2 linked regions of the Homo sapiens genome follow. The protein of the gene in region 2 purifies or fractionates together with the protein of the main gene of each other region. This does not show direct contact. Each region holds a gene or a part of one and is shown on either strand. Other genes may lie near its edges.

The links. The genes of interacting proteins can lie anywhere in the genome.
Region 1: the proteins of BCAM (region 2) and TNPO3 purify together in Homo sapiens (affinity purification with mass spectrometry; 2 studies listed by BioGRID and IntAct, with this or other methods). This does not show direct contact.

The regions. Positions count from the first base shown.
Region 1 is NC_000007.14:128,971,612-128,975,880, forward strand, and holds part of TNPO3 (transportin-3), read right to left. Parts: coding exon 4,208-4,269; intron 4,097-4,207; exon of another isoform or gene 3,934-4,096; intron 3,352-3,933; coding exon 3,257-3,351; intron 972-3,256; coding exon 815-971; intron 1-814. UniProt on the Homo sapiens protein: Importin, which transports target proteins into the nucleus. Specifically mediates the nuclear import of splicing factor serine/arginine (SR) proteins, such as RBM4, SFRS1 and SFRS2, by recognizing phosphorylated SR domains.
Region 2 is NC_000019.10:44,814,911-44,819,950, forward strand, and holds part of BCAM (basal cell adhesion molecule isoform 1 precursor), read left to right. Parts: intron 1-3,611; coding exon 3,612-3,727; intron 3,728-3,830; coding exon 3,831-3,972; intron 3,973-4,145; coding exon 4,146-4,282; intron 4,283-4,435; coding exon 4,436-4,580; intron 4,581-4,671; coding exon 4,672-4,816; coding exon of another isoform or gene 4,817-4,820; exon of another isoform or gene 4,821-5,040. UniProt on the Homo sapiens protein: Transmembrane glycoprotein that functions as both a receptor and an adhesion molecule playing a crucial role in cell adhesion, motility, migration and invasion.

The DNA of each region.
Region 1 (4,269 bases), on a different chromosome or scaffold from region 2:
TCTACAATTCTACTCCACATCTAATCAAACCTACCTTCGAAATTCCTGTGAAGCACTTTACTACTCCCACTGCTTAGTTGTCTACTAACAAACTTAGTACTATTCTGACTTGCTCTGATCTTGGCTTAGAGGCAGTATGACTATCTGCCTCTCTAATCCATCAAAATTCTACCTCTAATTCATGGCTTCATTTAAATCCCTCCCCTTCCATAAAGTTATTCCAACTCTTTTTGGTCTAGAGCTTTCCCTCGTCTGATCTCATACCAATCATGACTTTTATCACTCATCTGACAATCAAATACTGGAGGCCAAGGTGGGAGGATCACTTGAGGCCAGGAGTTCAAGACCAACCTGGGCAACATGGTGAAATGCCATCTCTACAAAAAATATAAAAACTAGCCAGGCATGGTGTTGAATGTCTGTAGTCCTGGCTACTCAGTAGCTGAGGATCCCTTGAGATTCACATCACTGTACTCCAGCCTAGGCGACAGAGCAAGACCCTGTTTCAAAAACAAATGAAAAACACCAAACACTGGCATCTTGTTGTTACTTAACTCTTTAAACTTGTTTCTCTCTTCAACTAGACACCAAATGATTTGGGAGCATGAACAGTTTTAGACTGCTTTATATAGCCTAAAGCACCCAGCACAAGTGTCTTAGTTGATATTTTGGCTAGTGAATGATCCACTATGATATATGTCTACCAATATAGATCAAGTAAGGAAATACTGGGATGCTGGTTTTCTCCTAAGGAATGACAAAGAGATAGGAGATAAAAGCTGTTAAGTAGAAATGGTATCATTTTTATACTTACATCATTGGCTACCCCTGTATGAATGAGGTCTCGTAGAAACCTCATGACACTACAATTGGCATCCCGGTGGTCCAGGGTAGTAGAGGCAATGGCCCACTGTAAGATAGGGATGACCACTTGGCTCCGCAGCAAGGTGACAGGGCTACGCTGAATAAACCTGGTGTGGAAAGTGAGACTAGGTATAAATGACAAGATTAGGCTATAAAAGCAGCCAGGGTAAAAGGGCAAAACTATGAAGACAGTAAAAAAGATCAGTGGTTGGTGGGGGGTTTCAGGGAAGAAGGGATGAATAGACAGAACATAGAGGATTTTTTTTGGCAGTGAAAGTATTCTGTATGATACTATAACAGTGGATACATGTCATTACACATTTGTCAAAACCCACAGAATGTACACCAAGAGTGAAGCCTAATGTAAACTATGGACTTTGGGTGATAATGATGTGTTCATATAGGGTCACTGTTTGTATTACTCTGGTGGGGGATGCTAATAGAGGGGAAGGCTGTGTGTGTTAGGAGGGAGGGGTATATGGGAGCAACTTTTCACTCAAATTTGCAGTGAACCTAAAGTTGCTCTTTAAAAAAAAAGGACCATATCTTAAGATTAGTATATTAAAAGACGTGTCACCACATCCTATTTCCAACTAAGATTTTATAAATCAAGAAAGACCAGTCAAAAGGACCTACAAGTAGAAACTCTCCTAGGTTAAAAAGTCCTAAAGATGCTAGAACAGCATTTCCCAAACTAAAGTTCACAGAATTCCAGTTCCCAGGATGTCAACAGGAATCCCTCAAAGAAAAGGTTGTGTGTTCAGGTAAGCTTGGGAAATGCTGCTGGATTTTGAAAGTAGTTTTGCTTGTTTATTTTTTCCTTTAAACTACTATCAGGTTTCTAAGTTCCTTTAATATACAGGGAGAATCTCTTCAGAAAAAGGTACAGTATACTCCAAACTTGTTTCATCATTTGTATAAAGAACATTTTTAGGGACTAGTTTTCCAAGGAATACATACCCTAAGAAAACAGAGGGTGTGCCGGGCGTGGTGGCTCAGGCCTGTAATCCCAGCACTTTGGGAGGCCGAGGAGGGTGGATCACGAGGTCAGGAGATCGAGACCATCCTGGCTAACACAGTGAAACCCCGTCTCTACTAAAAATACAAAAAATTAGCTGGGTGTGGTGGCGGGTGCCTGTAGTCCCAGCTACTCGGGAGGCTGAGGCAGGAGAATGGCGTGAACCCAGGAGGCAGAGCTTGCAGTGAGCCAAGATCACGCCACTGCACTCCAGCCTGGGCGACAGAGCGAGACTCCGTCTCAAAAAAAAAAAAAAAAAAAAAAAAAAAGAAAACAGAGGGTGACAGCCCATCCAACAATTCTATCAACTGAAAAAAAAAAAAAAAGAAAAGGAAAAAAAAAGGGTTTTTCTAACCTATCCAAAAACTAACAAAAAAAAAGGGTTCAATATTCAATCCTGCCAGGTACGGTGGCTCACGCCTGTAATCCCAGGACTTTGGGAGGCCAAGGTGGGCGGATCACCTGAGGCCAGGAGTTTGAGACCAGCCTGATCAACATGGCAAAACCCCGTCTCTACTAAAAATACAAAAATTAGCTGGGCATGGTGGTGGGCACCTGTAATCCCAACTACTCGGGAGGCTGAGGTAGGAGAATCACTTGAACCCAGGAGGCAGAGGTTGCAGTGAGCCGAGATCATGCCATTGCACTCCAGCCTGGGCAACAGAGTGAGAGTCCATCTCAAAAAAGAAAAAAGAAAAAAAATCAATCCTAAGATGAAACAATCAAGTCAACATTACTTTGCATTTGTAAATGATATAACAGTTGGGCTTTTGTTGTTTCGAAAATAATGATTTTTCTTTTTTTTTTTTTTTTAATGCTGATATGGTAACAGTTTTGGTTCAAATTCCTTAGTTAGGGACTAAGGAATTCAAGCAGAAGTTTGGCAATCATATTATCAGTGCTACTGATAAAGTAGGCTGTGAGTAGAGCTGAGAAATACAGTATGAGATAACTGCTAAGGCATCTTAAAATCCCAAACATTCTTTATTCCGAAACTGATTATATCTAAAGGATGCTAAGCTTCTCAAAGAGAAGGTTGAGGTGAAACATGAAATCGCAACAGCACGAACAGTTAAAACCTACAGAGGACTGTAGAGATGATCTAGTCAAGTGTTTTGCCAGGCACACTGCATTGTCTTGTGTGTGAGCCCTCCTTCCTGGCAGGAACTCAGCTCCTTTATCCCTTGCTTCCCGCAATACTCTGCGTCACTGCTGGGGATATATCAGCTTGCAATTTACCTTTGGGTTATGAATCATTAATCTACTTACTCCAGTGACTTCATTTTACAAGAATAAAACAACCAAGGGTCAGATGGCAAGACTAAGCAGTGATAGGATGAGCAATTAAGAAATGGGCTCTTCAGAAGGATTTACCTGGTGGCTAGCCGGAACAGGTCATCTACAGTGTCAGGGTGATTCTGGAGACCATTCTGCTGTTCTAGGAGCTGAAAGGTGGGGATGCACAGTGCCTAAAACAAAACAGTGATTTTAAAAGAAATGCTTTTTCAGAAATGCCACAGCATTCAGACTTGCCAAATATTTATTACAATAAGTACAAAAGGAACAAAGAAGAAAAGCACAGCTGGGAAAAGAAAAAGATTGTAATGAGAATCTGATCAGGAAAAGAAACACATAAATCCTTCCCAGTTGACATAAACAGTTTTCACCTATGAAGTCCACATTTAAGAAAGGGTTGAGAAAACAGATTTTAGCTGATAAAACTCAACAGATGTCATCTCAAAGTTTTAGAAATTTCTGAAAGCAAAGATTCTATTTAGGTATAGTCCACTAAGGGAGTGGAAGTTTTTATAATAATTATGAAATATCAATTTTAAATGAAAAGACATCTTGGGAAAAGAAACAACATTCTTCAACTCAATATTCCCCTCTGTGGCTGGAAGGGAGGGAAAAGCAGTATCTGAGGAGCTGTTTCCAATGCTATTATTAATTCTAAAACCCTCCCTGCTGCTAAGTAAACTAGTCAGTTGGCTGTTCCAGGCAAGAAGTTAAAAATACAATAATGCTTGAGCTTAGAGATTCATTTTTCTCACCTCCTCCCCCCTCCAAACACCCTATCTCTGGAAGAGCATAAACCAGGCAGTAACATGTAATAATCATTACACTCATGTGGTCAGTCTCTCATTCTCTCAAACAGGCCTGTTCAGAGAACAACTGGGAAGCTTCCACCTCCCTGTTATTAGGAAATCAACATGCCTGGGGGAAAACATAAAGAAGCAACAGAATTAAAGACATGGTAAAGAATACGCTGCTAGGCCTTCAGACCCTCTAGGCCTGATGCGTCTACACTCCTCATGGAAAAGATACCTGGAGCATGTCTAGCAGTCCCTGCCGACAGCCTTCTTCCATGCCATATTCATCCACAAGGA
Region 2 (5,040 bases):
TTTTTTTTTTTTTTTTTCCCAGAGACAGGACCTGGCTACGTTGCCCAGGCTGGTCTCGAACTCCTCATGCGATCCTCCTGCCTTGCTCTCCCAAAGTGCTGGGATTACAGGAGTGAGCCACCGCATCTTGTCGAGAGCTCTTTCCATAGCACAGACCTGACCCTCCTCTGCTCAGAATCTGCCATGGCTCCCCAGTACCCTTGGGAGAAGCCCAGGTGTCTCACCATGGCCTTCAAGGTCCACCTGGCCAGTTCCACCATTAGCTAGCTGATCCTTCTCCCCAGTCAAGGCTATCTCCTCATCACCCCCCAGGCTCCTCTGGTTCCTACCTTCACTGCCCATCCTTCCTACCGTCTATTTCTCACCAATCCCTTGAATCCCAGGCTTCTAAGAATGATTTTCAGTTCATTCGCATCCAGGCCCTGGGGAAAGGCTGTATTCTCCCTTGGCACTTCTTACATATCCCTTCCTGGGGTAGACCCTGCGCCAGATGCTGGGGACACATCTGTGAACAAGACAGACCACCCCTGTTATTTCAGTAGGGGAGACAGATGGTAAATGCTAACTAAGCCCTTTCGTAACAGTAGTGTATCTACAGGTGATATCACCAGTGAGAGAGAGCAGGAGAGGGGATTATTTTAGGTGGCAGGTGTTGCAGTCTGCTTTCCTGAGAAGCAGATTCTGACTTGGATGTTTTCAGGCAAGAAGTTTATGGGAAGTACCCTGGGTTCCGCACCTCTTGGGTCTAGGGAGGTAAAGGAAGCAAGATTTGGCAAGGTGAGAAGTTGGACTGAAGTCTAAGGAAGGTCTCAGGCTGGGTGCAGTGGTTCATGCCTATAATCCCAGCACTTTGAGAGGCTGAGGCAGGAGGATTGTATGAGCCTAGGAGTTTGAGGCCAGCCTGGGCAACAGAGGGAGACCCCATTTGCACACACACACACACAAATTAAAAATTAGCCAGGCATAGTGGCACACACCTGTAGTCCCAGCTACTCGGAGGCCCAGGTGGGAGGATCCCTTGAGTCTGGAAGGTTGAAACTGCAGTGAGCCAAGATTGTGCCACTGCACTCCAGCCTGAGCGACAGAGAAAGACCCCGTCTCAGGAAAAATAAAAATAAAAAAGTAGGCCGGGCCCCGTGGCTCATGCCTGTAATCCCAACACTTTGGGAGGCCGAGGTGGGTGGATCACCTGAGGTCAGGAGTTAGAGACCAGCCTGGCCAACATAGTGAAACCCCCTCTGTACTAAAAGTTAGCCGGGTGTGGTGGCATGCACCTGTAATCCCAGCCACTCAGGAGCCTGAGGCAGGAGAATCGCTTGAACCCAGGAAGCGGAGATTGCAGTGAACTGAGATCGTGCCATTGCACTCCAGCCTGGGCAACAGAGTGAGACTCCATCTCAGAAACAAATAAAAGAAAGAAAGAGGGCCTCAGTCAGCCCCACGGGGTACTTGGAATCCAGGATGGCCCTTCACAGTTGTCCCCAGTTGGGGTGAGGGGGCTGGGCCTTAATAACCTCTACATCAACCAGTCCTCAGAGGTGTGCTGGCCTTAGGCAAGGGGCTCTCAGCAGCTGAGGCAGCTCCCAGAGAGGGGTGACAGCTGCAGGCTGACAGCTGTCATCCTTCTTAGCAGCTGGTGGAATAAGTCCTTCCGTGCTGTAGGAAAGATCTGGGTGTCCACAATAGGGGAGGTCAGGGAAGCCTCTGAGAAGAGACATTTAAGTGAGACTCAGAAAAGCAGACAGCAGCCAGGCACAGTGGCTCACACCTGTAATCCCAGCACTTTGGGAGGCCGAGGCAGGTGGATCACCTGAGGTCAGGAGTTCGAGACCAGCCTGGCCAACATGGTGAAACCCCATCTCTACTAAAAATATAAAAATTAGCCAGGCATGATGGCTGGTGCCTGTAATCCCAGCTACCCAGGAGACTGAGGCAGGAGAATCGCTTGATCCTGGGAGGCGGAGGTTGCAGTGAGCTGAGATCGTGCCACTGAACTCCAGCCTGGGTGACAGAGCAAGAGTCTGTCTCAAAGAAAAAAGAAATTGGCCGGGCACGGTGGCTCACACCTGTAATCCCAGCACTTTTGGGAGGCAGAGGCGGGCAGATCATGAGGTCAGGAGTTTGAGACCATCCTGGCTAACACGGTGAAATCCCGTCTCTACTAAAAATACAAAAAATTAGCTGGGCGTGGTGGCAGGTGCCTGTAGTCCCAGGTACTCGGGAGGCTGAGGCAGGAGAATGGCATGAACCCAGGAGGCAGAGCTTGCAGTGAGCTGAGATCCCGCCACTGCACTCTAGCCTGGGCGACAGAGCCAAACTCTCTCAAAAAAAAATAATAAGAAGAAGAAATGCAGAGAGCTACAAAAAGAGCACTGCAAGTAGAGTGAGCAAGTGCAAAGGCCCTGAGGCAGGCCCCAACTTGGTCTACTCAAGAAAAACAGCAAGAGAACGGGGTAGCTGGGAGCACAGGAGGAATGGGGAAGAGTGGGAGATGGTTCAAGAGGTGGGTGAGGGCCAGACCAGGCAGCATCTTTTAGGCACCCTCAAGAAGTTTGGCCTCGATGCCAAGGGTACTGGGGAGCCACTGCAGGGTTTTATGCAGAGGGGAGGGATGACCAGTGGGTGGTTGGTTTTTTTTGTTTTTTTTTTTTTGAGTCAGAGTCTCACTCTGTCACCCAGGCTGGAGCGCAGTGGCACAATCTCGGCTCACTGCAACCTCCACCTCCCAGGTTCAAGCGATTCTCCTGCCTCAGCCTCCCAAGTAGCTGGGACTATAGGCATGCACCACTATGCCCAGCTAGCTTTTGGATTTTTAGTAGAGATGGGGTTTCACCATGTGACCAGGGTGGTCTCGAACTCCTGACATCAGGTGATGCACCCGCCTCGGCCTCCCAAAGTGCTGGGGTTATAGGCATGAGCCACCGTGCCCGGCCTGACCAGTGGATGTTTTAAAGAGGTCCCTCTAGCTGCTCAGTGGAGGATGGACAAGAGGGAGGAGCAGGCTAGTGAAGAGGTGGTTGGGACAGTCAAACCTGGGGCCAGAGGTGGCAGGAAGCCAGAGGATTTGTCCTGGGAGCAGACCAGATAAAGACTTGCTGAGGCCAGGAGCAGGGGCTCACGCCTGTGATCCTAGCACTTTTGGGAGGTCAAGACAGGAGGATCACTTGAGGCCAGGAGTTTGAGACCCAGCCTGGCCAACATAGCAACACCTTGTCTCTATTCAAAAACAAAACTTTGCAGAAAAGATGTTTGGGGGTAACAGGGAGGTTACCCCACAGGTTGGGGTTTGAGCAAAAGGTTTGTGTGCTAAAGTCACAGAAGGGACACCTTCCACACCTAAGGTTATTCATTAACCTTGGGCTCAGATGTCAGCTCTGAAGAAAAGTAATTGACTTGGGCATGTCAATGTTGGGGTTAGACTGCTAGATTTTTGGTTGGAGAGCCTGGATGGGAGAATGGAGATTTCATGGAGATGGGGTAAACCAGGAGGATTACTTGCTGTTCTCTGCTTCCAACTGTCCATTCATGTTTGCACCCCCGACCGCCCCTGGAGAGCCCCTAATTGAGTGGGTGGCGGTCTGGGACGAGTGACAGACTGTCCCCCACTGCAGATCTGGACCCCCTGGAGCTCAGCGAGGGGAAGGTGCTTTCCTTACCTCTAAACAGCAGTGCAGTCGTGAACTGCTCCGTGCACGGCCTGCCCACCCCTGCCCTACGCTGGACCAAGGTGAGAGGGAGAGGAGCCCCCTCGGGCCCTGCACTCGCACCCTCCTCTCTCCCCTCACTCCTCGCCCTCTCACAGCGTCCTCCTCCTCCTCTGCCCTTCCCAGGACTCCACTCCCCTGGGCGATGGCCCCATGCTGTCGCTCAGTTCTATCACCTTCGATTCCAATGGCACCTACGTATGTGAGGCCTCCCTGCCCACAGTCCCGGTCCTCAGCCGCACCCAGAACTTCACGCTGCTGGTCCAAGGTTCAGGGGGCAGGGAGGGGGTGGGCTTGGATGGGGACAGTGTGGGGTGTGGGACCTGGACAAACAGGACGAGTTCCTGAGTCCCTGGCTGGGGACTCCATCTTCTGCTCGATGCCTCTCTTCTCTCTCTCTCTCCTCTCCCTTCACTTTCTTCCCATCCCCACCACCCACAGGCTCGCCAGAGCTAAAGACAGCGGAAATAGAGCCCAAGGCAGATGGCAGCTGGAGGGAAGGAGACGAAGTCACACTCATCTGCTCTGCCCGCGGCCATCCAGACCCCAAACTCAGCTGGAGCCAATTGGGGGGCAGCGTAAGGGACCTTCCTCTCCACCCTGAGCCCCCTCTCACTCATCCAAGTATCACACCCTCCTTTCCACTTCCTGGGAGACTGGACGTCGTTCACCTCTGCCCTTGACCCCACCCCTTGACCCCACCAGCCGGGGCCTGATCGGAGCCTCCATAGCCCGCAGAGCCAATCCCCGGACGGCAGGGTTGGGTGAGCAGCTCTCTGACCCTGAAAGTGACCAGCGCCCTGAGCCGCGATGGCATCTCCTGTGAAGCCTCCAACCCCCACGGGAACAAGCGCCATGTCTTCCACTTCGGCACCGGTGAGTGACTGAGGTGGTGGCAGAGGAGCCGGGTGTGGGGCAGACAGAGCCCACTGCCTGACCCACGCCTCTCTCCATCCTGTCCCTGCAGTGAGCCCCCAGACCTCCCAGGCTGGAGTGGCCGTCATGGCCGTGGCCGTCAGCGTGGGCCTCCTGCTCCTCGTCGTTGCTGTCTTCTACTGCGTGAGACGCAAAGGGGGCCCCTGCTGCCGCCAGCGGCGGGAGAAGGGGGCTCCGTGAGTGGCCTGCTATCTGCAATGACCACCATAGCTTAACCCCATCCCCACCCTCAACCCCAAGCTCAACCCATAACCTCAACCACATCTTATCCTCCACCCCACATCCCACCACATCCACCTCCATCCCCAACCCATCCTCATCCCCAACTACAGCCCCAAACCCAGCCCCAGACTAATCCACAGCCATCCCCAACTCATCCTCATCCCCAACTGCAGCCCCA